Linked DNA regions of Homo sapiens. The protein of the gene in region 3 purifies or fractionates together with the protein of the main gene of each other region. This does not show direct contact. Each region holds a gene or a part of one and is shown on either strand. Other genes may lie near its edges. The genes, in order: ARHGEF2, TANC2, PAK5, DBN1, FAM83B, TBC1D2B and GAN.

Region 1 (3,500 bases), on a different chromosome or scaffold from region 3:
GCAACCGAAGCTGGCAGCCTGGAGGCCCGGCTCCGGGAGAGTGAGCAGGCCCGGGCACTGCTGGAGCGTGAGGCCGAAGAGGCTCGAAGGCAGCTGGCCGCCCTGGGCCAGACCGAGCCACTCCCAGCTGAGGCCCCCTGGGCCCGCAGACCTGTGGATCCTCGGCGGCGCAGCCTCCCCGCAGGCGATGCCCTGTACTTGAGTTTCAACCCCCCACAGGTAAGGTGGCCTGCAGTGGTGAATGGACCTGGGGTGGACATAAGGGTCCATGGAGCCCGAAAGAAATTGGGCCATTGGGGATTTGAGCCCAAATGCAATCAGTCAACTGACTTGAAGGATATTGAGATACTGGTTGGAGAACTGAAAAGAAATGTAGATGGGTGCAGGGGTGGAGGAAATTAACTCGGGTCGTGGTGCTGAAAGAGGCCAGTTGGTGGTGGATCTCCTGAAGGGGACTCATGGGTGAGCCCCAGGGGGGAGAGCTGCTGCCTTCAGCCAAGCAGAACCTCCAATCTTCACACTACTCAGTCCCTGACCTGCTGTTCTTCCTGCCCACTGTCCACAGCCCAGCCGAGGCACTGACCGCCTGGATCTACCTGTCACTACTCGCTCTGTCCATCGAAACTTTGAGGACCGAGAGAGGCAGGAACTGGGGAGCCCCGAAGAGCGGCTGCAAGACAGCAGTGACCCTGACACTGGCAGCGAGGAGGAAGGTAGCAGCCGTCTGTCTCCGCCCCACAGTCCACGAGGTGAGACCCTGGCGGAGACATGGACCAGAGGTAGAGTGCAGCCTGGGTACAGGCCATTGGGCTGTGGCTTCCAAATGGGCCCTAACTGACCTGTGAGGCTTGTAGTAACTCTAGGGAGGGACTTCCTGTTTTGTCTGATGATGAATGGGTGGTGGAAGTCTAGGAAGCAGGAGGGGCCTCTCTCCTCCAACTGGTTGGTGATTCCCAACCTTTAGAAGTAAAAACAGATTCTTTTTTAAAAAGGCATGGCGGCTCAGGCCTGTAATCCTAACACTTTGGGAGGCCAAGGCAGGAGGATCGCTTGAGCTCAGAATTTTGAGGCCAGCCTGGGCAACATAGTGAGACCCACCTTCTCTACAAAAAAAAATTCATTTATTTATTTTTTTATTTTATTTAATTAATTTATTTCATTATTATTTTTTGAGATGGAGTCTTGCACTGTTGCCTGGGCTGGAGTGCAGTGGCGTGATCTTGGCTCACTGCAACCTCTGCCTTCCAGGTTCAAGCGATTCTCCTGCCTCAGCCTCCCAAGTAGCTAGGATTACAGGCGCCCACCGCCACGCCCAGCTAATTTTTGTATTTTTAGTAGAAATGGGGTTTCACTATGTTGGCCAGGTTGGTCTTGAACGGCTGACCTCGCGATCCACCTGTCTTGGCCTCCCAGAGTGTCGGGATTACAGGCATGAGCCACCACGCCTGGCTAAATTTTTTTTTTTTTTGAGATGGAATTCTCACTCTGTCGCCAGGCTGGAGTACAGTAGTGAGATCTCCGCTTACTGCAACCTCCGCCTCCCAGGTCCAAGTGATTCTCCTGCCTCAGACTCCCGAGTAGCTGGGACTACAGGCACATGCCTCCACGCCCAGCTAATTTTTGTATTTTTAGAAGAGATAGGGTTTCACCATGTTGCCCAGTCTGGTCTCAATCTCTTGACCTCATGATCCGCCTGCCTTGGCCTCCCAAAGTGCTGGGATTACAGATGTGAGCCACTGCACCCGGTCTATTTTATTTTATTTTATTTTATTTTATTTTATTTATTTATTTATTTAAGATGGAGTCTCACTCTGTCACCCAGGCTGGAGTGCAGTGGCACAATCTCAGCTCACTGCAACCTCCACCTCCTGAGTTCAAGTGATTCTCCTGCCTCAGCCTCTCGAGTAGCTGGGATTTACAGGCATGCACTACCACACCTGGCTAATTTTTTTTGTATTTTTTAGTAGAGATGGGGTTTCACCATGTTGGCCAGGCTGGTCTCGAACTCCTGGCCTCAGGTGATTCACCCACATTGGCCTCCCAAAGTGCTGGGATTACAGGTGTGAGCCACCGTGCCTGGTCCCCCAAAATTTTTTTAATTAGCCAGGTGTGGTGGAGTGAGCCTGTAGTCCTAGCTACGGAGAGTGAGAGTGAGGTGAGAGGATCACTTGAGCCCAGCAGGTTGAGTTGACAGTACTCCGTGATTGCTCCAGCCTGGGCGACAGAAAGAGACCCGGAGACCCAGACAGAGGATCTCACTCTAAAATTTTTTATGTTAGAGAGAGGGTCTTGTGCTGTTGCCGAGGCTGGACTCAAACTCCTGGGCTTAAGTGATCCTCCCAAGTAGCTGGGGCTACAGGTACATACCACTGTGCCTGGGAAGGTATAGTTTTTTGTTTTGTTTTGTTTTGTTTTTTTTGAGACAGTTTTGCTCTGTCACCCAGGCTGGAGTGTAGTGGCACAATCTCAGCTCACTGCAACTTCCACCTCCCAAGTTCAAGCAATTCTTGTTCCTCAGCCTCCCGAGTAGCTGGGATTACAGGCGCATGCCACCACATATAGCTAATTTTTGGCATTTTTAGTAGAGATGGGGTTTCACCATGTTGGCCAGGCTGGTCTCCAACTCCTGGCCTTAAGTGATTCTCCCACCTTAGCCTCCCAAAGTGTTAGGATTATAAGCACGAGCCATGGGGCCAGTTTTTAAAGTAAAAAAAGTTTCAAAGAACTTCAAGTTTTTACAGTTGGTTCATGAAATAAAAAATTACCAAAAGCTTTAACCTTAAAGTATTTTGTATTTTCCTAATCAAATTGTATCTTTGGATACTGTAAAAGTGTATCCGGTACCTAGGTATGGATACCTTGCTTACTTTGTTGCCAAAGGTTTTCCTCTCACCCAAGAATTTACAGAACCCTGTCATCCCTTCACAGCCCCAGAGCCCCCTGAGCCTGCAGATGGGGAGGCATTAGTCTAGGGGTACAGTTCCTCATGGGAGTCTCTGCTAACTCACTGGCTTTGTCCTGTCCCCCTTCAGACTTTACCAGAATGCAGGACATCCCGGAGGAGACGGAGAGCCGCGACGGGGAGGCTGTAGCCTCCGAGAGCTAAGGGGGCCCCTCCCCCCTGCCCCGTGCCCCACTGAAGAACATTACTGAGGGGGCTAACCTTGGGGACTCCAATTTGCCAATGATGAGGGAACATTTGAAAGAACTGCAAATTGTCCTTGCCAGCTCTTGGGATCCTTGGATACCTGGGGCCATTTAAGAAGCTAGGGGAATTAGGCCACAACACCCCCTGGGACATCCGAAAGCTACACCACAGATGCCAGTGGTTCATGCCTTCTTCCCGCAACTTTAGGAAAATTTATTTATTTATTGTTTATTAGTTATGGGGGGAGAGGGGAGATTTAAAGGACCAGGGACATGGGAACCAAGCCATAGGGATCAGAGGGCCTTGTCCTTGAACACTACTGGGGTATATTCAGGCTCATCCACGCAGCTGC
Region 2 (3,500 bases), on a different chromosome or scaffold from region 3:
ACTATGATTTGAGATTTTATAGAAAGGATTAAAATTAATTTTTGTCAAGTTAGTAGTGTTCAAAAGAAATAGTCCAAAAAAAATGCATAAAAAGAGTAGGCCCAGCAGTATCTGAGTTTTTCGGTTTACAGTTATTCAAAAACTCTTTCTCTCAGCTTTTATCAAATACTTCACAAAAGAAAATTTAAGGATATGAATAAAATAAATCAGTATCCAAACTACCATGGGTTTCTAAAATGCCTTGCAAGGCTGAAAAGGAAATCAAGACAAGATAACAAAGAAAAGCTGGAGTGACAATGCCAGTAAAAAATTGGGAGGAGCTGGCATATATCAAAAAAGAAAAATTTAGGATACTTTCCACAGGCTAATAAAAATTACCATTTATTAAGTACTAGACATCGTCCTAAGGATTTTCACCAAGATATTTTTCATTTCATCATCATAAAAACCCTGTGAGATAGATTTTTGGCCCCTCATACAATTAGTGACAGAGCAGTAATTCAAACCCATTTTCATGATTCAAAACTCATAAAGTCATATTCTTTCCAATATATACTGGTCTCATCATTGGAATTTCTAAACTTACAACTGAGCAACAGTACTGTCATCCTATAATATAGGAATGTCTGAATAACAGCTTTCAAACAAAGTCTGTCTCTACATTAAAAAAAAAAAAAAATTAAAAAAAAAAGCCCGAAAATGGAAAAGCTGATTCTCTGATCCTGAGGCAGAATATGGGTGTATGTGGTTGGACGGTTATTTATGTGGTTTAATAAGTCTTCATTCCATAGGCCCACTAAAGCTATTTACATTCATTCACACTAATTCACAATCCCAGGGTGCCCTAGAGGATTCCATGGAATTTGAACAGAAATAGAATTACAGAGTACAATAAATATGTATCAAGTTTCTATAACCTATAACCTAACTAGCTGTGCCTTACCAAATTTCAGCAACCACAACTAGAAATTGTGGGATTCCTCCACCCAATGAAAGATTAGGAATAAAGGGCTAAGAAGTGACTACCTTCATTTAGGCAGACAGAATTGCCTGAGATCTGAGATTTGAAGCACATTCTCCAAGCATAAAATGACTAAATCACAATCTCTATATACCCACTCTCGTTTCCAAGTTCAATAACTATAATCTACTTATAAGGCTGGATTAACCAGGGGATTTCCATGGCAGTAAAAAACTGGGGCCATATTTCTTAATGTTGTCAATCTTTATAATCAGCTACGTCATCATATGATAATGCTAGCATGGTATTACAGACAAGGAAATAAGAATGGCTACCTGGTCCAAAGATCATCCATTTGGAATGACAAGTTTTCCACTATTATTGCTTACGTACTTTTCTTTATGAATTTTATGTCTGTAACATTGGCTGATATCTACGAAAAGGAATATATCAATCACTGCCTTTTCATAACACTTTGCCACATAAAGAAAACAGTAAAATCTATCATCATTGGCTTACTGAACTTCAGGGAAGTGGCAAATATTAATAGTATGGTACATATGTTTTTGAACTATATTTTTCCCAGGGGTAGAAAAAATATGTAAGACACAGGATTCTGAATTACAATTTTAGCTTTTAAGGAAGAATATGAAATTTCCATCCCCAAGTCAAAGACAATAGTAGTAAAATTAACAACTTATACATAGTAGTCAATAAATATTTAAATGAATGAATATGTTAATACACTCCATAAAAATACCCCAGTTTTTCCAACATAACTAATCCACCTCAACTTTTAAACTTTACACACAAGGTGTCTGCCTAACAAACTAATATACAAAATCAAGGTTTTTAAAAATATAACAATGATCTTTTATTGCAAAAAATGTATATGAGAAACTGAGATGTGAGCGAAGAAAAACATTCTACTACATGCTGTTCTCCAAACTCCTCTCCACCTTTTAAAGAAAAAAAAAGGAATAGAATCTTGAAACACACTTTGTGAGAGTCTTATTCAGTGTTAGATGTAATAAGGGTGTCATCAGAGAGGTACAACAGGGGCCTGTGAGATAAATCATTACAAAAGCAAAGTGGCCAATCTTCTCAGTAAATAGAAGGAATTATGCCCTGCGAAGCCCTTCAAAAAAGTAGCTGGTATATCTCCAACTCATGATATTCAACGAACACTTAATGGGCACAGGCTATGTAACAGACCAAGGACTGACAAACTTATTCTCTAAAGAGCTAGCTAGTAAATATTTAGGCTTTGCAGGCCGTATGGTCTCGACAGCAACTAGTAGTCAACTCTGCTGCTGCACCCAATACCCAATATGTAAATAAGTGAATATGGCTAAGTTCCAATGGAACTTTCTTTATGGACAATGAAATTTGAATCTCCTTTAATTTTCATATGTCATGAAGTATCATTCCTCCTTTGATATCTTTTCAACTGCTTAAAATTGTAAAAACCATTCTTAGTTTGCAGGTCATACAAAAACAGACAATGGGCTGGATTTGGTCTATGGGCTATAGTTTGGCAACTCTTGCATTGTACAAAGAAAATCATTTGGCTAAAGTTCAGAGAATCTTCTCATCTTCCTCTTGCCACCAGCAAACATAAAAAAGAACAAAATCTGGTTTATCTTTAGGGTTAGTTTTAGTTACAGTCCAGGACTTACTCTGAGTAATATTTTAGATGGTGTGTATATTTCTCTAAACCTACCTCCTGGTGCCTAAAGTTTCCTCTAATTCCACAATAAGAGATGAGGTTTCAAAGGCATAACTGAGATAACGGTCAACAATCCTCACTCAATAAGTAGATAATGAGCACCTACTATGTACTAACTATACTGATGCTGAAAAGATGAAAAGTCACAGTGCCTGCTTAAAAGCTCACACATTAGTGATGAACCAGTCATATTAAATATTTAAAATATGTTACGGCCGGGTATGGTGGCTCATGCCCGTAATCCCAGCACTCTGGGAGGCTGAGACGGGCCGATCATTCGAGGTCAGAAGTTCAAGACCAGGCTGGCCAACATGGCAAAACCCCATCTCTGCTAAAAATATAACAAAATTAGCTGGGCATGGTGGCACATGCCTGTGATCCCAGCTACTCAGGAGGCTGAGGCAGGAGAATCACTTGAACCCAGGAGACAGAAGTTGCAGTGAGTCAAGATGGCCGCCATTACACTCTAGCCTAGGCAACAGAGTGAGACGCCGTGTAAAAAAAAAAAAAAAAATGCGGCAACTACTATATACACCAAGTGCAAGGGGAGAATAGATAGAGAACATCATGCCCAAGCCCACCTGGAGGAGTAAGCAAAACCTTCTTCACTCGGAAGACATTGGGCTAACGCATGATGGCTGTGAAGCAGTTTGCCCAGAGAACAAAGGAGAGGGCAGGAGTAGTCCATGAAAAAAAGAACTTCATAAAGGCATGAAAAGGTAGGAGAATACTACATACTGAAGGAACCACACACAGTTTACTACCGCTAAAGCACTTTGAAGACAGAAGTGGCAGGCAATGAGTCTAAAG
Region 3 (3,500 bases):
TGTCTGCCAGGCACGGTGGCTCATGCCTATAACACCAGCACTTTGGGAGGCCAAGGCAGGTGAATCACTTGAGGCCAGGAGTTTGAGACCACCCTGGCCAACATGGGAAAACCCCATCTCTACTAAAATACAAAAAAATAGCTGGGTGTGGTGGCACACTCCTGTAATCTCAACTTCTTGGGAGGCTGAGGCAAGAGAATCACTTGAACCTGAGAGGTGGAGTTTGCAGTAAGCCGAGATCGCGTTACTGCACTCCAGGCTTGGTGACAGAGTGATACTCTGTCACCATTAAAAAAAAGAAAGTTGTCAAAACTTTTAAAAGTTTAAATTATTTGACACACTATTCCTCTTGTTTTTTATTTTATGTTTTCTTTTGTCTTTGGTAAGGAAGTAGATGCAGGTAAAATTGTGTATTATAATATATTTCATAGTAATAAAAATTAAAAAGAACCTATATAACTAGAACTTGGGAGCTTGGTAAAGGTATTTAAGGTCCCAAGATAACAGACTATTATATAGGTATTAAAATTAATTATTTTGAAGATTATATAATGACGTGAAACAAACTTCACCACAATTTTAAGTGGAAAAAAACAAAATGCACTACTACATATATTGTATTGTTAATATGTGTTTTGTGAAATGAAAACATCATGCAGGTATATTTAAAAAAACAGAACAAAATTAAAAAGTTAGGCAATCTCTGGGTGGTGGAAATATGGATGGCTTTTATTTTGTTACACTTTTCCAAATTTTAAAAAATGTAGTAGGCCGGGCACGGTGGCTCACACCTGTAATCTCACCACTTTGGGAACTCGAGGTGGGTGGATCACTTGAGCTCAGGAGTTTGACACCAGGCTGAGCAACATGGCAAAACCCCATCACTACAAAAAATACAAAAGTTAGCTGAGCGTGGTGGCGCACGCCTCTGATTTCAGCTACTCAGGAGGCTGAGGTGGAAGGAATGTCTGAGCCCATGAAGTGGAGGTTGCAGTGAGCCAAGATCGCACCACTGCACTCCAGCCTGGGCGACAGAGTGAGGCCCTGCCTTGGAAAAAAAAATTAGTCAATGATGTGTTGTTTTATGAATCAGAATTAAAAAATCCACTATTTTACAAATAAGCAGTGATATACATTTAGGTTGTAATTATTCATTTATGTAACAAACATTCATTGATTATCTCTTGTGTCAGGGGCTCTGCCAAGTGTATCAGCAGTGACTCTTAGATTGCATGCAAATGAAAGAAACTCTGCCTAACTCCAGCAAAAGGAATTTACTAGAAGGATATTAGGTAGCTAAAAGAATTGCCAGGAATGTGGCGGGGGATGGGGAATCCCAAACACACGCACGCGCGCACACACACACACACCCCCCAAAACAGCTTGGAAGCAGATGAAGCTAGTCAGTTCCAGGTCTAGATATCAGGCACTTTGGAAACAGACTCCAGCCAAGAATGACTTGTTCAGAGCTTGACCACAGTCCACTGGCTGCTATGCTTGGGGTTCTTCCCCCACACCCAGCCCACTGGGCATGGGATAGGAGGGGGGGTGCCTTGATTAGTAGGCCCACTACCCCTTTCCAATGAAAGAAACACAAGAGATGTGATGGGTGCTAAAAAGCCAAAACCAAACCAAACCAAACCAAAAAAAGACAACAGAAATGCCCATTACCCTAGGACTTAGGGGTAAACAGGGTTGAATACCACTCATCCCTCTCTTTGCATCCCATAGGAAACATTTGCTATGACATGGGAGTTTAACTTAAGGTTCATGGTCTAATGTTCACTGTGATGTGCATCATTGAAGGTGCAATGTGGGTGCCCCACACAGAAGGTACATTTTCCTCTTGGAGCCAGTAGTGACATGTTGGGAAGAGTGTGGATTTTCAGCCTGATCCTTATATACCGGCAGGAATTTTGAAAGAAAGGTCCCATTTTCTCAGGTAAGAGAAAATCCTAGAAAGGTATAATCTGAAAGAAACAATGAAGCAGAAGCAAGAGGTATAATATGGAAATAGATCAGGCACCAACACAGGTCTAGCCTTCTTTTCTGAATGATCTTACATTCAGCAAGCCCAACAGTCATGTTTGAGTTTAGTTCACCATGAATACCAGCCTCTTGGTTCAATTAACTTTGGTTGATAAAGTTATTATTAACTAAATATTAAAAGATCATACTTAGATCAGTGCATATTCTTACTGCAGTTCTCATGATAAATAGGAAATGTCTGTGGCTGTCCAGGTAACTTAACAATCATGTTGTTGCTTTTATAACTCTTTATAAACTTTTCTGTGAAGAAAGATGACTTGTAAGTGGAAGAGAAAAAAGAGGTAATTGTTCTTCACTTGTGCTTAAAACAGGACAGAGAAAATAATCTTAAATTAGCAAGACAGGTCCCTGTCCTGGTCACTGTATATTAGAGGGCTCTGCTACTCTGCACTCCAACTTCTCAGCACCTGGACAGCACTGCTCCTCTGCAACAAAGACCCCTTGAGCTCTTTGCCTCCTTCTGAGCCTTGCTCTGCATAGCTGGGACCTTGGAATTCACTGCTCATGGGGCTCCTGGGCCCAGTGGGGGTTGAAAAAAGACTGTTGGTGGGAGGTGTAAATGGAGCTTGGACTTGTGGACTTTGTAGTCTCCACACAAGTGCTGGAGGCCATGGTAGAAAGAGAAAGGGATGGGGAGGGGAGCAAAGACTGGGTCTCCTTGCTTTGCTATGTTCTGGAATTTAAGTACTCTAAATTTAAATCTGGCTTCTACGTTGTTATGAAGGCATATTTGTTAAGCCAGGAAGATATAACACATTTAAATTAACATTTTTTTAGCTTGATTTATAGTATTTAAATATTGAGATCTGTAACATGTGGGACTCCTTTTGTACTCTTGTCTCTCAAATGTTAGGATCAGGCCTGCTCAGGTAACTGTTTTAGAAAGGTAACACTCAATTGTTGAGACACACATGCATAATTAGCTAATCATGCAACGGCAATGTAGATTATAAGAAAAATAGATTATACTTTTTGTGACTATAGCTAACATATTGAACAAGATGTGTTAAGCCCACATCCAAGTATTTTACCTATGTATATTAATTAGTCTTCATAAGAACACCATAAAATAGGTCACTCAAGGCAAAATATCATGCAGCTAGATAGAGTCAAGAAGCTCTGGATCATCTGAATCCAAAGGCCATTGTGGTATACAACAATTCAATGGATAAGAAAAGTTTTATCTGAGGTCCTTGAACCTCCGATAATTTAAAAGTCACTAGATTAATCAACCCACTTTGACTCTCCAATACTCTCAAATCCTCAGATTCAGCATTTCTGTTCGTGCAGATTTCCTCATGAAAAGGGAAAGTAAATGAATGGACTGCCTTGCAGTGTTTGGTATTATGATTAACTGAATGTTCCAAACCAAAAATCAATATTTGGTTGTTTGTATAAGAAGCACATTTAACTTACATTTTTAAACAGATGTCCAGTTGTGGGATTTCCTT
Region 4 (3,500 bases), on a different chromosome or scaffold from region 3:
GTCTGGCCTGGAAGGCCGGAATGCATGCGTGCTGGGCTCTTGCCCCGGGCCTGAGGGAGCCTCCCGGAGCTTGCACCCAGGTGTCCCCGTTCCGCTTCTCAGTGTGCTGCTTCCGCCTCTCCTGAAGCTCTTCCCTGCCCTGTCTGCTGGTCTGAGTGTGCTTGCCCCATGCTGGGGTCCCGCCACAGGCCGTCCCTGCTGTACTGCTCCCAGGCTGGCTGTGTGTCTGGGGCTGGTGTGAGGCTGCGGCTGGCTTGGCTGATTGTGCCCCTGGCTGAAGGCAGCTTGGACATCCAGGGCCAGGCCCTGGGGGCGGGAGAGGCCTCGGGCAGGGGTGGGGGAGACTGACCCTCTCTTGTCCTCTGTCTCTTTCTCTGTCTGTCTCTCTCGGCAGGTCGTCCGTACTGCCCTTTCATAAAGGCATCGGACAGTGGGCCTTCCTCCTCCTCCTCTTCCTCCTCCTCCCCTCCACGGACTCCCTTTCCCTATATCACCTGCCACCGCACCCCAAACCTCTCTTCCTCCCTCCCATGTAGGTAGCAGCCCCAGGCCTCGGCGGGGGTGGTAAGGAGGGCCCCGCTTCCCAGCAGCCCCCCGCCCTCACTCCCCCAGTCTGACCGCTGATCTCTGGTGTTTGCCCCCAGGGCAGGCACTGCCTGCCTCTTGCCCCTGGCCTTATGGGGCACTGGCCTCCAGGGGCCTAGCTTACAGGGTCTGGAGCTGTAGTCTGGCCCCTGGTGGGGCTGGAGAGCTCCCAGCCCCCACCCAGATTCCAGAGAGGAGGTGCTGGCCAGGCCCCAAGGTGGACAATCCTGTCTCACCCGGCTCCCCCGCCCTCACTGACCCACCTGGGGTTTGTTCCACAGGCAGCCACCTGGACAGCCACCGGAGGATGGCGCCCACTCCCATCCCCACGCGGAGCCCGTCTGACTCCAGCACCGCCTCCACCCCTGTCGCTGAGCAGATAGAGCGGGCCCTGGATGAGGTCACCTCCTCGCAGCCTCCACCACTGCCACCGCCACCCCCACCAGCCCAAGGTGAGAGAGGGATGCTACCTGCACCAGGCCTCCCATCATCAGTCCCTGGCTGGGAGCCCCAGGTTGCCATGGTAACCGTTCTCCAGGGATCTGGGCCACCCATCACCAAGACTGCACTGCCCTGGAGGCGGCTGTGTGGGGAGGAGCCCTGGTGTACAGTCAGACCTGCCCTCTCTAAAGCTTAGCACCCGCCCTCTCAAGTGGGAATCGGGCCTTGGCCTTCCTCCCGGAGCTGCCAAGGGGCTTAAAGTCACTGGGGTCACTGGGTAAGGGGGCAGTGGGACACCTGCATGGAAGTCCCTGGCTCCCTCACTCCTTAGTGGGTGGGCAGGGTCTCCATCCTCCCCGAGGGGAGCCGGTTACATATCTCCTCTGCCTGTGCTGTGACAGAGACCCAGGAGCCCAGCCCCATCCTAGACAGTGAGGAGACCAGAGCAGCAGCCCCTCAGGCCTGGGCCGGCCCCATGGAGGAGCCCCCTCAGGCACAGGCGCCTCCCCGGGGGCCAGGCAGCCCTGCAGAGGACTTGATGTTCATGGAGTCTGCAGAGCAGGCTGTCCTGGCTGCTCCCGTGGAGCCTGCCACAGCTGACGCCACGGAGATCCACGATGCAGCTGACACCATTGAAACTGACACTGCCACTGCTGACACCACTGTTGCCAACAACGTACCCCCCGCCGCCACCAGCCTCATTGACCTATGGCCTGGCAACGGGGAAGGGGCCTCCACACTCCAGGGTGAGCCCAGGGCCCCCACGCCACCCTCGGGTACTGAGGTCACCCTGGCAGAGGTGCCCCTGCTGGATGAGGTGGCTCCGGAGCCACTGCTGCCAGCAGGCGAAGGCTGTGCCACCCTTCTCAACTTTGATGAGCTGCCTGAGCCGCCAGCCACCTTCTGTGACCCAGAGGAAGTGGAAGGGGAGTCCCTGGCTGCCCCCCAGACCCCAACTCTGCCCTCAGCCCTTGAGGAGCTGGAGCAAGAGCAGGAGCCGGAGCCCCACCTGCTAACCAATGGCGAGACCACCCAGAAGGAGGGGACCCAGGTGCGGCAGGGACTGCCTGGTGGGAGGGATGGGAGGGAGTGGGGGCTGAGCAGGGTGCTGGCCCTGCATTCCTCATGCTTGCACCAGTACCCCCTTCTCTGTGACCCACATTATTTGAGGGGAAGTCCATCCCACCCTCCCTCCCTGGGCCGGCTCTGCTTTTGTTCCCAAGGCAGGCATCCTTGTTTCCCTGGCAACCACTGATGGAATCATTGGTTGCTGGGGAAACGGGCTCAGGCCTGATAGGTCAGCCCCAGTCCTGCTGGGTGGGGCCAAGTGACCTGATGCTTTCCCCTGCAGGCCAGTGAGGGGTACTTCAGTCAATCACAGGAGGAGGAGTTTGCCCAATCGGAAGAGCTCTGTGCCAAGGCTCCGCCTCCTGTGTTCTACAACAAGCCTCCAGGTAGTACTGGGCTGGATGATGGGGAGGAATTTGGGTGCGGGGGCTGGATTTGAGTGTGGGTAGCCACCCCACCACTACCCACCGCTCACAGAGGCTGGGGACACAAGCGGTCTGCTAGGTCCCTAACTCCTCTCCCTTTCTAACGCCACAGAGATCGACATCACATGCTGGGATGCAGACCCAGTTCCAGAAGAGGAGGAGGGCTTCGAGGGTGGTGATTAGCGGTGGCGCCAGCCCTAGGCTACCCTTGCCAAGGCCGCCCACCTGCATCAGCCTCTGGCCAGACGGCCCGCCGTGCCTGCATTCGCAGCAGCTCCGCCTGGCACCCACTCCGGATTCCGGCCCTGGCTGGGGACTTGGCCGCTTCCCTACCCACAGGGCCTGACTTTTACAGCTTTTCTCTTTTTTTAAAAAGTTGATAGGAGACTTGTACAGTTGACTGGCTTTCCTCTCGTTGGTAGTTGAGACGCTGTTGCAAATTCCACCCCTCCTTCCCTGGTCCAGATTGTAGCTCTTAGTCCTCCCTGCTCAGCTGGCCGGGTTGGAGGCCTCACCCTGCTTGGGGCCTGGCGTGGGGGGAGCTCTGGTGGGAAAATGTCCCCCACCTCTTTTCCTAGTTTTATGTTTCTTGGGAAAATATCACTTTGTATTCTCTGTCCAGGGCTTCAGATATTTTGCACGAATTTTAAAACATGGCAATAAATGGCTCGTGGGCTCTGGCTCCCTGGGACCCCCTCCCCGCCCTTCTTTTGACCCCTTCCTGTCTGGCCCAAAGGAAGTAGCAGGCCCAGCTGGGGCCCCTCGGCTACCCCCCGTCTCCTGCCGGGCAGGTCCCAGGTTGGAGGCCCTAGGCGCGGTTCAGGTCAGGGCTATGGATGGGGCCCAGGGGCTTTGGTGGCCCCTCCCCAACTCCTTCCTCTTTGCTTGGGTTCCTTTTTCACGTTTAGTAACTGTTTTTTTTTTTTTTTTTTTTTTTTTTTTGGAAAGCACAAACTTCTGTAACGGGTCGTGCTCATGTCT
Region 5 (2,415 bases), on a different chromosome or scaffold from region 3:
CTCTTCTTTAAGTTGTGCCAAATATGATATGACTGCATAGTGTTTTTGTAAGAATACCATTGGGAAAATGAGAAGTTTTACTGGGCTAGTTCTTCCATGATTTGAGGATGATATTCAGATTATAAGATACCCTTTGTCTTTCTTACAGTAATGAAGTATAAGCTCCATATCTGTTCCAGAGACTTTAACTTGACTTTGCTTCATTCACAAAGAACAGAGTTCAAGAAGCAGTGCATCCTGTGAGAAGTGTGAAGTGTTTGTACATCACTTTAAATATATTACTTAATATATTCTAAGTTGCTGTGTGGAGCAGTATACTGTTGTTTTAAAAATGCAAGATTCAGACAAATTTTAATATTGTCTCATTAAAATAATTTAAATAATGGTATAAAATATCTATATCATTAAAATAATTTTCCATAGTGTTTAGAAACCATGAAAAAGAAAACATAGCAGGAGAAAATATGACAGGAAAAGAAAACCTAACAAAGCCCAGAACCCACAGTTAACCAAACTAGACTGACTTTGTTATTACCCATTCTTTGTTAGTATTGGATAGGGAATTAGGATAATGAGCCATTAGGCAGTTCTGAAATGGAAAGCCCTGAAATTTAGTGCAATGTAACTTTAAAACTGAAATTATATAAAGAGTAGAAGTTTAATCATGTTTAATTACAACCAAAAGCCTGTTGCCTTTTTGTACAGAAATCTCCTTAATTTCAGGACATGTAGATAGCTTATAGAAACATCCTTTTAAATAGTTTGTGAGCTCTTCCTCTTCAGTGGAATTGAGGAATACAGAATGCTTTATTTCATCATCCCCTGACAGGTGACTTAGGCTTTGCACAGCAGATTTATTTTTCTCTGCGTTTTTTAAAAATTGTTTTTCTTGTATCTTTTTTCTTCAAAAATATCTATATTTGAGAATATGTACATAACAACTTTCCAAAGTCTCTGTGGCCAAAACCTCTCCAGGGATAAGACTGAGCAAGAATATAATACTTCAAAAAATGTACAGCTACTGTTTAAGTTTTAAACAGACACCATCACAGTTTGTGGATGAAATAGTTTTAAGCCATATACTTTCTGTCTTTTTTTCCCCATATTAATATTGGGGGGCGGATAATATCACTTTGATGTACATTGATATTAAAGTTTGGTAATGCAGCTTTTACTGTCTACATGGTACTGTACATTAGTTTTTAAGCAGAAACACAAGAAAAATGGGTATAATTTCAAAGTAGTTCTTGGCAGATGGCTAGAGAATACTGCAAGTGACCCTGTATCCCGAATACACAGATATCCCTCTATTACAAGTTTGGGATTAGCCATAATTCTGACATGGTGTGTTCAGGTATGGGTATATGTTGTCAGTCTACACTTGTGGAAGCAAATATCTTGTTTAATCAAGATGATGTCTAGTGTCACCTAAATAATGCAAAAAGTTTAATTCTGGATGAATTCAGCTTTACTCAAGATCCACATATTCAAGTATCATTCCACAGATATTCACAGAACACAGAAATATCTGTGTTCTGCCTTATGCCTGTGGCTAAGGGATGCAAAGTAGAATTGCTTTACATTGACTATATATGTGACATGTACGTTGCTGTTTTTTTTAAAATAACTTTATCATGATATTCAGGTAGATCCTGGGTTCTAGAATATTTAAAACAAAAGGATAAAATGATAAACCAAAGAGTCAACTTGTTAACTTTTCTTTTTTAAGAGATGGGTTTTCACTAGTATGCCCAGTCTGGACTCCAAGTCCTGGGCTCAAACGATCCTCCAGCCTCAGGTTCCTGAGTAGCTCAACATTTTATGTATGTACGATATTATAAAGAAATATTCTTCCAAATGAACTTTTGTTTTTAGATCAATAAATGAATAATAAATAATTTTGTACAAACATCAATATATTGTAAGCTATTGTTTTTTTAAATCTTCATACTCTGCATTTCTGCATTCAAGCTCAGTCTTTCACTTAGTTATTCTAATCAGGAATTTAGATGTGTACATATTTTTAAATGTTTTTTCCATGAACTTGGAAATCACATGTAAAACATTGTTTTGATTACCAATTATATTTTATATAGTAATTTATTCATATTTGAAATTCAGTGGCGATTCTCTTCCTTTAAGCAAAATATTATATATACACATTCTCTTTATTTCTATTATACTGTAACATAGTGGTTACTTTAAATAATTTTTTACTTTTTTTTTTTTTTTCAAGATGAAGTCTTGCCCTGTCACCCAGGCTGGAGTGCAGTGACACGATCGCAGCTCACTGCCACCTCAGCCTCCTGGGTTCAAGCGATTCTCCTGCCTCAGCCTCCCAAGTAGCTAGGTTTACAGGCACCTGCCACCTAATTTGTGTATTTTTAGTGGAGATGAGGTTTCACCATGTTGGCC
Region 6 (3,500 bases), on a different chromosome or scaffold from region 3:
TTTGTTTTTTTGAGACAGAGTCTCGCGCTGTTGCCCAGGCTGGAGTACAGTGGCACAATCTTAGCTCACTGCAAGCTCCGCCTCCCGGGTTCACGCCATTCTCCTGCCTCAGCCTCCTGAGTGGCTGGGACTACAGGCGCCCACCACCACGCCCGGCTAATTTTTTGTATTTTTAGCAGAGACAGGGTTTCACCGTGTTAGCCAGGATGGTCTCGATCTCCTGACCTTGTGATCTGCCTGCCTCGGCCTCCCAAAGTGCTGGGATTACCGGTGTCAGCCACCGCACCCAGCCTTTTCTGGAATATTTTAAAGCAAATGCCAGACGTCACGTCATTCCACCTGTAAAATACTTCAGTGTGTATTTCTGACTGATGATACCTTTTTACATACTAATCCCAGATACATATCATTTTGAACTTATTTCCTTCAACATTATTTTCTGAAATTATCCAGGTTGATACAAGTTACTCCTGAGCTATTTTTTTTAAGAGATGAGGTCTCTCAGTCTGTTGCCCTGGCTGGCCTCGACCTCCTGGTGGGCTCAAGCAGTTCTCCTACATCAGCCTCCCAAATAGCTGGTACTACAAATGCACACGACTGAGCATGTTTACCTTCTTTGTAGAACATCATTGTATGAATCTACCATGGTGTCTTTATTCCTTCCCCTCATGGAGGACATTTAGGTTCTTTCCATTTTTCCTTGTTACAGTGATGCAAGGACCATCATGGTCCATATTCCCATGTGCCCACGTGAGAGAGTTTCTCTAGGGTGCAGACTGGAAGTGGAATTCCTAGTGTATAGAAAATACATACCTTTAACTCTGCTTGCTAGATCTGATTTCCAAAGTGCTTGAGTAAGTTTACGCTCAGCAGCAGTGTGTGAAAGGCCTTTGTAGTAGTTTTCTTTTACTGGTACAACAAATTATCATAAACATAGTGGCTTAAAACAACACAAATTTGTCACTTAATAGTTCTGTAGGTCAGTAGCCCAACATGGGTCTCATTGGATTAAAATCCAAGTTTAATTAAGGGCTGCATTTTTTTCTGAAGGTTCTGGGATAATTTAAGTTGTTGGTGGAATATAGTTCCTTGCAGTCATTCGTAGGACTAGGTCGCTATTTCCTTGCTGGCTGTCAGCTGTGGTTGGCGTCTTCTAGAGCCCCCTGCATTCTTTGGCCTGTGGCCCCTTTTCCCATCTTCGGGGCAGCAGCAGCAGGTCCAGCCCCTCTCACACCTCCCGTCTCTCCTGCCTGACATTTCTCTGACTGACTCTTCCACTTTGAAGGGCTCATGAGGATATTTGGGCCCACCCAGATATCCCAAATAATCTCCTTGTTTTAAGTTCTGTAGTCTTAACTGCATTAACGTTCCATTAACAACATTCCTATTGCCATGTAATGTAAAACAGCCACAGGTTCCAATAACTGGGACGTGAACATCCTTATCCCTAATAGCTTATAAATACATTCTTTGTTTTTTTTTAATCTTTTAAAATGATATTTTTAAGCATAAAGTTATACATATGTAGTGTATATATATGATAAAGAAACATACACATATATTAATGTAGCCAAATTTATCAATCTTGTTTTTGTGCTGTTGCCTGCGTTTTCTTCCATGCGTTTCATATTTTCAGTGTTAAACTGTTTGGGATTGTTTTTTTTCCCTGTATAGTGTCAAGTAGATATCTAATTTAATTTTTGCATATAGATAGCCAGTCCTCCTAGCTTTATATACTGAGAAGTCGATTATATCCTCACTGATTTGAAATGCTTCTCATAGTTCAAAGTACCACGTGTGCCTGATTTGGTTTCTAGACTCTCTATTTCTGTTGCATTGGTCTTTGTTGCTAAAACTTTGTCATTTTAATTTTTCCTTTTGTTTTTATCAACAGTGAATATGATATTTATGGGTTCAGGACTGTACCTGAGGATGATGAGGAAGAGAAATTGGTTGCCAAGGTCCGCGCGTTGGATCTGAAGACTCTCTACCTCACAGAAAACCAGGAAGTCTCCACTGGGGTCAAGTGGGAAAACTATTTTGCAAGTACAGTGAACAGGGAGATGATGTGCTCTCCAGAGTTAAAAAACCTCATCCGTGCGGGCATTCCCCACGAGCACCGTTCCAAGGTGTGGAAGTGGTGTGTGGACCGTCACACCAGGAAGTTCAAGGACAACACTGAGCCTGGCCACTTCCAGACCTTGCTGCAGAAGGCGCTGGAGAAACAGAACCCAGCCTCCAAGCAGATTGAGCTGGACTTGCTGCGAACTCTGCCCAACAACAAACATTACTCCTGCCCCACCTCAGAAGGCATACAGAAGTTACGCAATGTCCTCCTCGCCTTCTCCTGGCGGAATCCAGATATCGGCTACTGTCAAGGCCTAAACAGGTGGGTGCACAGCACAAAATGTTCCCATTTGCCATTAGGCAACTTGTAGGCACCGGTGCTGCCTGGCAGCTCCCTCCCTTCCTGGTTGGCCAAGAAAAGTCAATATTTTAAGAGAAAAAAGTAGTTGCAGCAAGCCAGTTTTCATTACACAATATCCCCAGTTCTAGAAGAACTGAGAGAAAAAGCATGCTTTTAGAAAGTATTAAGAACACAAGAGTTAAATTCATTTGAAACTACTTGGAGTCTCATTTTTTCCTGTTTGTTCTCATCGCACTCGGGTTTTGATCAGAAGTTTGATTTTATTAGTTTGTAATGCATGGAGTGGAAATTGGTGGTCACCCGTTGTTTATGCAGTATACAGGATCTTTTTGTGAATCAAGAGGTTGCCCCAAACAATTATTCAGCTGACTGAAACTTAGCCCTTCATGGACTTAAACTTGTTTCCTTTTAAACTAGAACTTTTAACAGGTCTTGCCTACTTCCCTACTTCCATAGGCAGAGGATGCCGAAAAGCCTCTCATGTTTTCTGGGTGATGTAGGCTCATCCTCCTGAGCTGTGCAGGGATGGGACAAGACCTCAGGAGGACTGAGGTTTGCTCCCCACAAAGCTCTTCCTGTCACTGGACTTTGCTGTGACTGCTTCTTACCTGGCTGGCGCGCTTTCTGCTTACTGCTGTCCTTGCAGTTGTCCATTTATATTTCTGTGTAATGAAAGTAGGTAAGCAGGCTTGTTAAAAATATGGATAAAGGTCCAGTGCAGTGGCTCACACCTGTAATCCCAACACTTTGGGAGGCCAAGGTGGAAGGATCGCTTGAGCCCGGGAGTTTGAAACCAGCCTGGGCAACATGGTGAAACCCCGTCCCTACAAAAAAATTGGCTGTGTGCGGTGGGTCACACCTGTAATCCTGGCACTTTGGGAGGTCGAGGCAGGCGGATCACCTGAGGTCAGGAGTTCAAGACCAGCCTGGCCAATATGGTGAGACCCTGTCTCTACTAAAAATACAAAAATTTGCCAGACGGTGGCACATGCCTGTAATCCCAGCTACTCGGGAGGCTGAGGTAAGAGAATCACTTGAACCCGGGAGGCAGATGTTGCAGTGAGCCAGCATT
Region 7 (3,500 bases), on a different chromosome or scaffold from region 3:
CAAATTATAGCTGGTTCTTTTCCTGTCTTTTCCTATTGAAATGGGAATCCTTTAAGGTGTAAAGGAAGCTGCTTGAAACTTTTACAGTGATACCTCAAATAAACTGATGATTTTTAAAAATTAAACTTTTACTTATCAAGACTCTGGGAAGTAGACAGTTAGGGCCAGGAGAAGATATTCAAGCAGCACGAGTGTGTCTCACTTGCCTGGTAATAACCTGAGTGTTAACAGTTTGTTTTCCATGAGGTGGAAAATGTAGATTCTAAAAATGATGTGTTGCATTTTCCATTGTTTTCGCCCCATCTTTCTTCCCTCTTCTGCAGGTCCACATGAAGGATGTTATGTCAGCTCTGTGGGTTTCAGGGTTGGACTCCAGTTATTTACGGGAACAGATGCTGAATGAACCATTAGTACGAGAAATTGTCAAAGAGTGTAGCAATATACCGCTCAGCCAGCCGCAGCAAGGGGAGGCGATGCTGGCCAACTTCAAACCCCGGGGCTACTCTGAGTGCATCGTGACTGTTGGTGGAGAAGAGAGAGTGTAAGTATGAGGTGGGACTTGTTTGAAAAGTGGTGTATGGGAAGAGGTAGTTCCATGTAAACAAGAATTCATAATGCTTTTCAGTATCTAAAACATAATTACATTTGATTTTTTTTTTTATACTTTAAGTTTTAGGGTACATGTGCACAATGTGCAGGTTAGTTACATATGTATACATGTGCCATGCTGGTGTGCTGCACCCATTAACTCATCATTTAGCATTAGATATATTTCCTAAAGCTATCCCTCCCCTCTCCCTCCACCCCGCAACAGTCCCCAGAGTGTGATGTTCCCCTTCCTGTGTCCATGTGTTCTCATTGTTCAGTTCCCACCTATGAGTGAGAATATGCGGTGTTTGGTTTTTTGTTCTTGCGATAGTTTACTGAGAATGATGATTTCCAATTTCATCCATGTCCCTACAAAGGACATGAACTCATCCTTTTTTATGGCTGCATAGTATTCCATGGTGTATATGTGCTACATTTTCTTAATCCAGTCTATCAATGTTGGACATTTGGGTTGGTTCCAAGTCTTTGCTATTGTGAATAGTGCCGCAATAAACATACGTGTGCATGTGTCTTTATAGCAGCATGATTTATAGTCCTTTGGGTATATACCCAGTAATGGGATGGCTGGGTCAAATGGCATTCCTAGTTCTAGATCCCTGAGGAATCGTCACACTGACTTCCACAAGGGTTTTTAAAAAATGTTTTAAATATTCTTTAGTAAACTAAAACTAGTGATGGCTACTTATAAAAAGAACTGTATGAAGCACATTAACTACTGATCACTTATTTACTTCCTTAGTTCACGGAAACCCACAGCAGCGATGCGATGCATGTGCCCTCTCTATGACCCTAACAGGCAGCTTTGGATCGAACTGGCCCCTTTAAGCATGCCGAGAATTAACCATGGAGTTCTCTCAGCAGGTACCGTTCTGTGGCAAATTTTCCTTAAACAGCAGATCAAGTAATGTGTAATCTCAAGGTTTTACAGAATGACTCAGAGCCTTTTAAAGATACAATTTTATTATCTCTACATGACATTTTTAGTGTAGTTCTAGCTTCTGAGACCGTGGTTAGGAAAACCGTATTTTCTGTCAGTCCTTATTATCTCTGTATCTTCAGCACATAGCTGCTTTTAAGAACTACTGGAGAAGCAGTTACTTGATGACTTAATGTCAGGAGAGCAAACTTCAGTGATGCTTACCACTAAGTAGCTGTAGGGCCACACCTGGAACACAGCGTTTCTTTGCACCATGGTAGTCCCATCTTTGAAATTCATGCAGCTTAGAATTACAATATGTAATTATATAAAATATGTTATATAAGGCCGAGTGTGGTGGCTCACACCTGTAATCCCCGCAGTTTAGGAGGCTAAAGTGAGAGGAGCCTAGGAGTTCAAGACCAGCCTGGACAATGTAGGAGAGAAACTGTCTTTACTAAAAATCAAAAAAATTAGCCAGGCATAGTGGCATGCACTTGTGGTCCCAGCTACTTGGGAGGCTGAGGTGGGAGAATCTCTTGAGCCCAGGAGATCGAGACTGCTGTGAGCCAAGATCACACCACTGCATTCCAGCCTGGGTGACAGAGTGAGACCCTGTCTCAAAAAAAAAAGAAAAAAAAAGAGAAGTTATGAGACTTTAGGAAATGCTACTTATATAGGCAATGGCTTAAAGTTATTTAGTATGGAAAATGCTTTACTTGACCTTTACAAGTTTGAAAACTGCTCTACTTTATCCAAAGCTCTCCCTTAAGGAGCTGATAGAAAAGATAGCCATTGAGGCATTGCCTTTGCTGGCTGCCTGTCTTTTCGCCGTGGTCCTGCTCCCTTGTCCACCTGATAAGTGTCATCTCATGTCATCCTAATTGTGGTCAGCAGCCCTCCTGCAGTCCTTATTTAATTGTGTTTGCTTGCCCAGCAACATTATCTTTAAAATTTTATTTTTTATTTTATTTTTCTTTTTAGAGATGGGATCTTGCAATGTTGCCCAGGCTATAATATTTTTAAAGCTATACTGTACCACAGTGCATCATACAAATGGCCAAGGCTCTACCATAGTATAGAAGTGGAGTCATTTTATGAGTCCCAAAATTATTAGTTATTGTCAGTAGTGAAGAGCTGGACAGAGTAGTATAGCCTGCAGGATGTAGGTCTAGTTTCCCTGTTGCATCTTCTCAGAATTAGCTCCCTTACATTTCCCCCAAAATATATACACATATTCCTAATTTTCACACATACACGTCTGTCACAAAGGCTCCTATATGACTAATATTTGAAAGTTTGCTAGAGGGATTGGTGTTTCAGAAACCCAGCAATGGAAGGAGCGACTGTGTACAGTGGAATTGATGGAAACAGAAGTGAGTGATTGAGGAGGTCCTTCCGTTTGTCCAGGCTGCATTGTTTTTTTTTTTTTTTTTGCCTTTTTAAAAATTGATTTTGACTGTTTTTTTGTCATTCAATTTTTCTTCTCTACCAGTTTGGGACTTACATTCTTGTTAATAGTCCTTTAGGAAGATTACCTTAGAAATTACAGCCTGTATTAAGTTAGCAAAGTCCAAAGTTAGTCAGTACCTGTGTTCTCTTCAGGAGAGTTTTTCTTCATTTTCCATTTTCCATACTCTTACAGTTTTAAAATGCATTATCACTAATAAATATGTACAGTAGATCCCCCTTATCAATGAGGGATGCATTCCAAGACCCCCGAGTGGTTGTCTGAGACCACAGATAGTGCTGAACCCTGTACATACTGTGTGTTTTTACTATACATCCATACCCATGATAAAGTTTAAGTTCAGCACAGTAAAAGATTAACGACAATAACTGATAATAAAACGACGATAACAATATACTGTAATAGTTATGTGAATGTGGTCTCTCTCAAAATATCTTACTTTACTGAACTCACCTATTTTCGGACTGCAGTTGACCATGGGTGATAAAACCACAGAAACCAAAA

What was found.
Region 1: the proteins of PAK5 (region 3) and ARHGEF2 purify together in Homo sapiens (affinity purification with mass spectrometry; 2 studies listed by BioGRID and IntAct, with this or other methods). This does not show direct contact.
Region 2: the proteins of PAK5 (region 3) and TANC2 purify together in Homo sapiens (affinity purification with mass spectrometry; 2 studies listed by BioGRID and IntAct, with this or other methods). This does not show direct contact.
Region 4: the proteins of PAK5 (region 3) and DBN1 purify together in Homo sapiens (affinity purification with mass spectrometry; one large-scale study listed by BioGRID and IntAct). This does not show direct contact.
Region 5: the proteins of PAK5 (region 3) and FAM83B purify together in Homo sapiens (affinity purification with mass spectrometry; one large-scale study listed by BioGRID and IntAct). This does not show direct contact.
Region 6: the proteins of PAK5 (region 3) and TBC1D2B purify together in Homo sapiens (affinity purification with mass spectrometry; 2 studies listed by BioGRID and IntAct, with this or other methods). This does not show direct contact.
Region 7: the proteins of PAK5 (region 3) and GAN purify together in Homo sapiens (affinity purification with mass spectrometry; one large-scale study listed by BioGRID and IntAct). This does not show direct contact.

Annotation. Positions count from the first base shown.
Region 1 is NC_000001.11:155,947,548-155,951,047, reverse strand, and holds part of ARHGEF2 (rho guanine nucleotide exchange factor 2), read left to right. Parts: coding exon 1-219; intron 220-565; coding exon 566-749; coding exon of another isoform or gene 750-779; intron 780-3,032; coding exon 3,033-3,106; 3' UTR 3,107-3,500. UniProt on the Homo sapiens protein: Activates Rho-GTPases by promoting the exchange of GDP for GTP.
Region 2 is NC_000017.11:62,972,735-62,976,234, reverse strand, and holds part of TANC2 (protein TANC2), read right to left. Parts: intron 1-3,500. UniProt on the Homo sapiens protein: Scaffolding protein in the dendritic spines which acts as immobile postsynaptic posts able to recruit KIF1A-driven dense core vesicles to dendritic spines.
Region 3 is NC_000020.11:9,829,077-9,832,576, reverse strand, and holds part of PAK5 (serine/threonine-protein kinase PAK 5), read left to right. Parts: intron 1-3,500.
Region 4 is NC_000005.10:177,456,635-177,460,134, reverse strand, and holds part of DBN1 (drebrin), read left to right. Parts: intron 1-394; coding exon 395-532; intron 533-866; coding exon 867-1,037; intron 1,038-1,427; coding exon 1,428-2,077; intron 2,078-2,377; coding exon 2,378-2,480; intron 2,481-2,631; coding exon 2,632-2,702; 3' UTR 2,703-3,500. UniProt on the Homo sapiens protein: Actin cytoskeleton-organizing protein that plays a role in the formation of cell projections. Required for actin polymerization at immunological synapses (IS) and for the recruitment of the chemokine receptor CXCR4 to IS.
Region 5 is NC_000006.12:54,943,185-54,945,599, forward strand, and holds the end of FAM83B (protein FAM83B), read left to right. Parts: 3' UTR 1-1,915; downstream 1,916-2,415. UniProt on the Homo sapiens protein: Probable proto-oncogene that functions in the epidermal growth factor receptor/EGFR signaling pathway. Activates both the EGFR itself and downstream RAS/MAPK and PI3K/AKT/TOR signaling cascades.
Region 6 is NC_000015.10:78,011,712-78,015,211, reverse strand, and holds part of TBC1D2B (TBC1 domain family member 2B), read left to right. Parts: intron 1-1,894; coding exon 1,895-2,389; intron 2,390-3,500. UniProt on the Homo sapiens protein: GTPase-activating protein that plays a role in the early steps of endocytosis.
Region 7 is NC_000016.10:81,356,462-81,359,961, forward strand, and holds part of GAN (gigaxonin), read left to right. Parts: intron 1-323; coding exon 324-541; intron 542-1,348; coding exon 1,349-1,470; intron 1,471-3,500. UniProt on the Homo sapiens protein: Probable cytoskeletal component that directly or indirectly plays an important role in neurofilament architecture.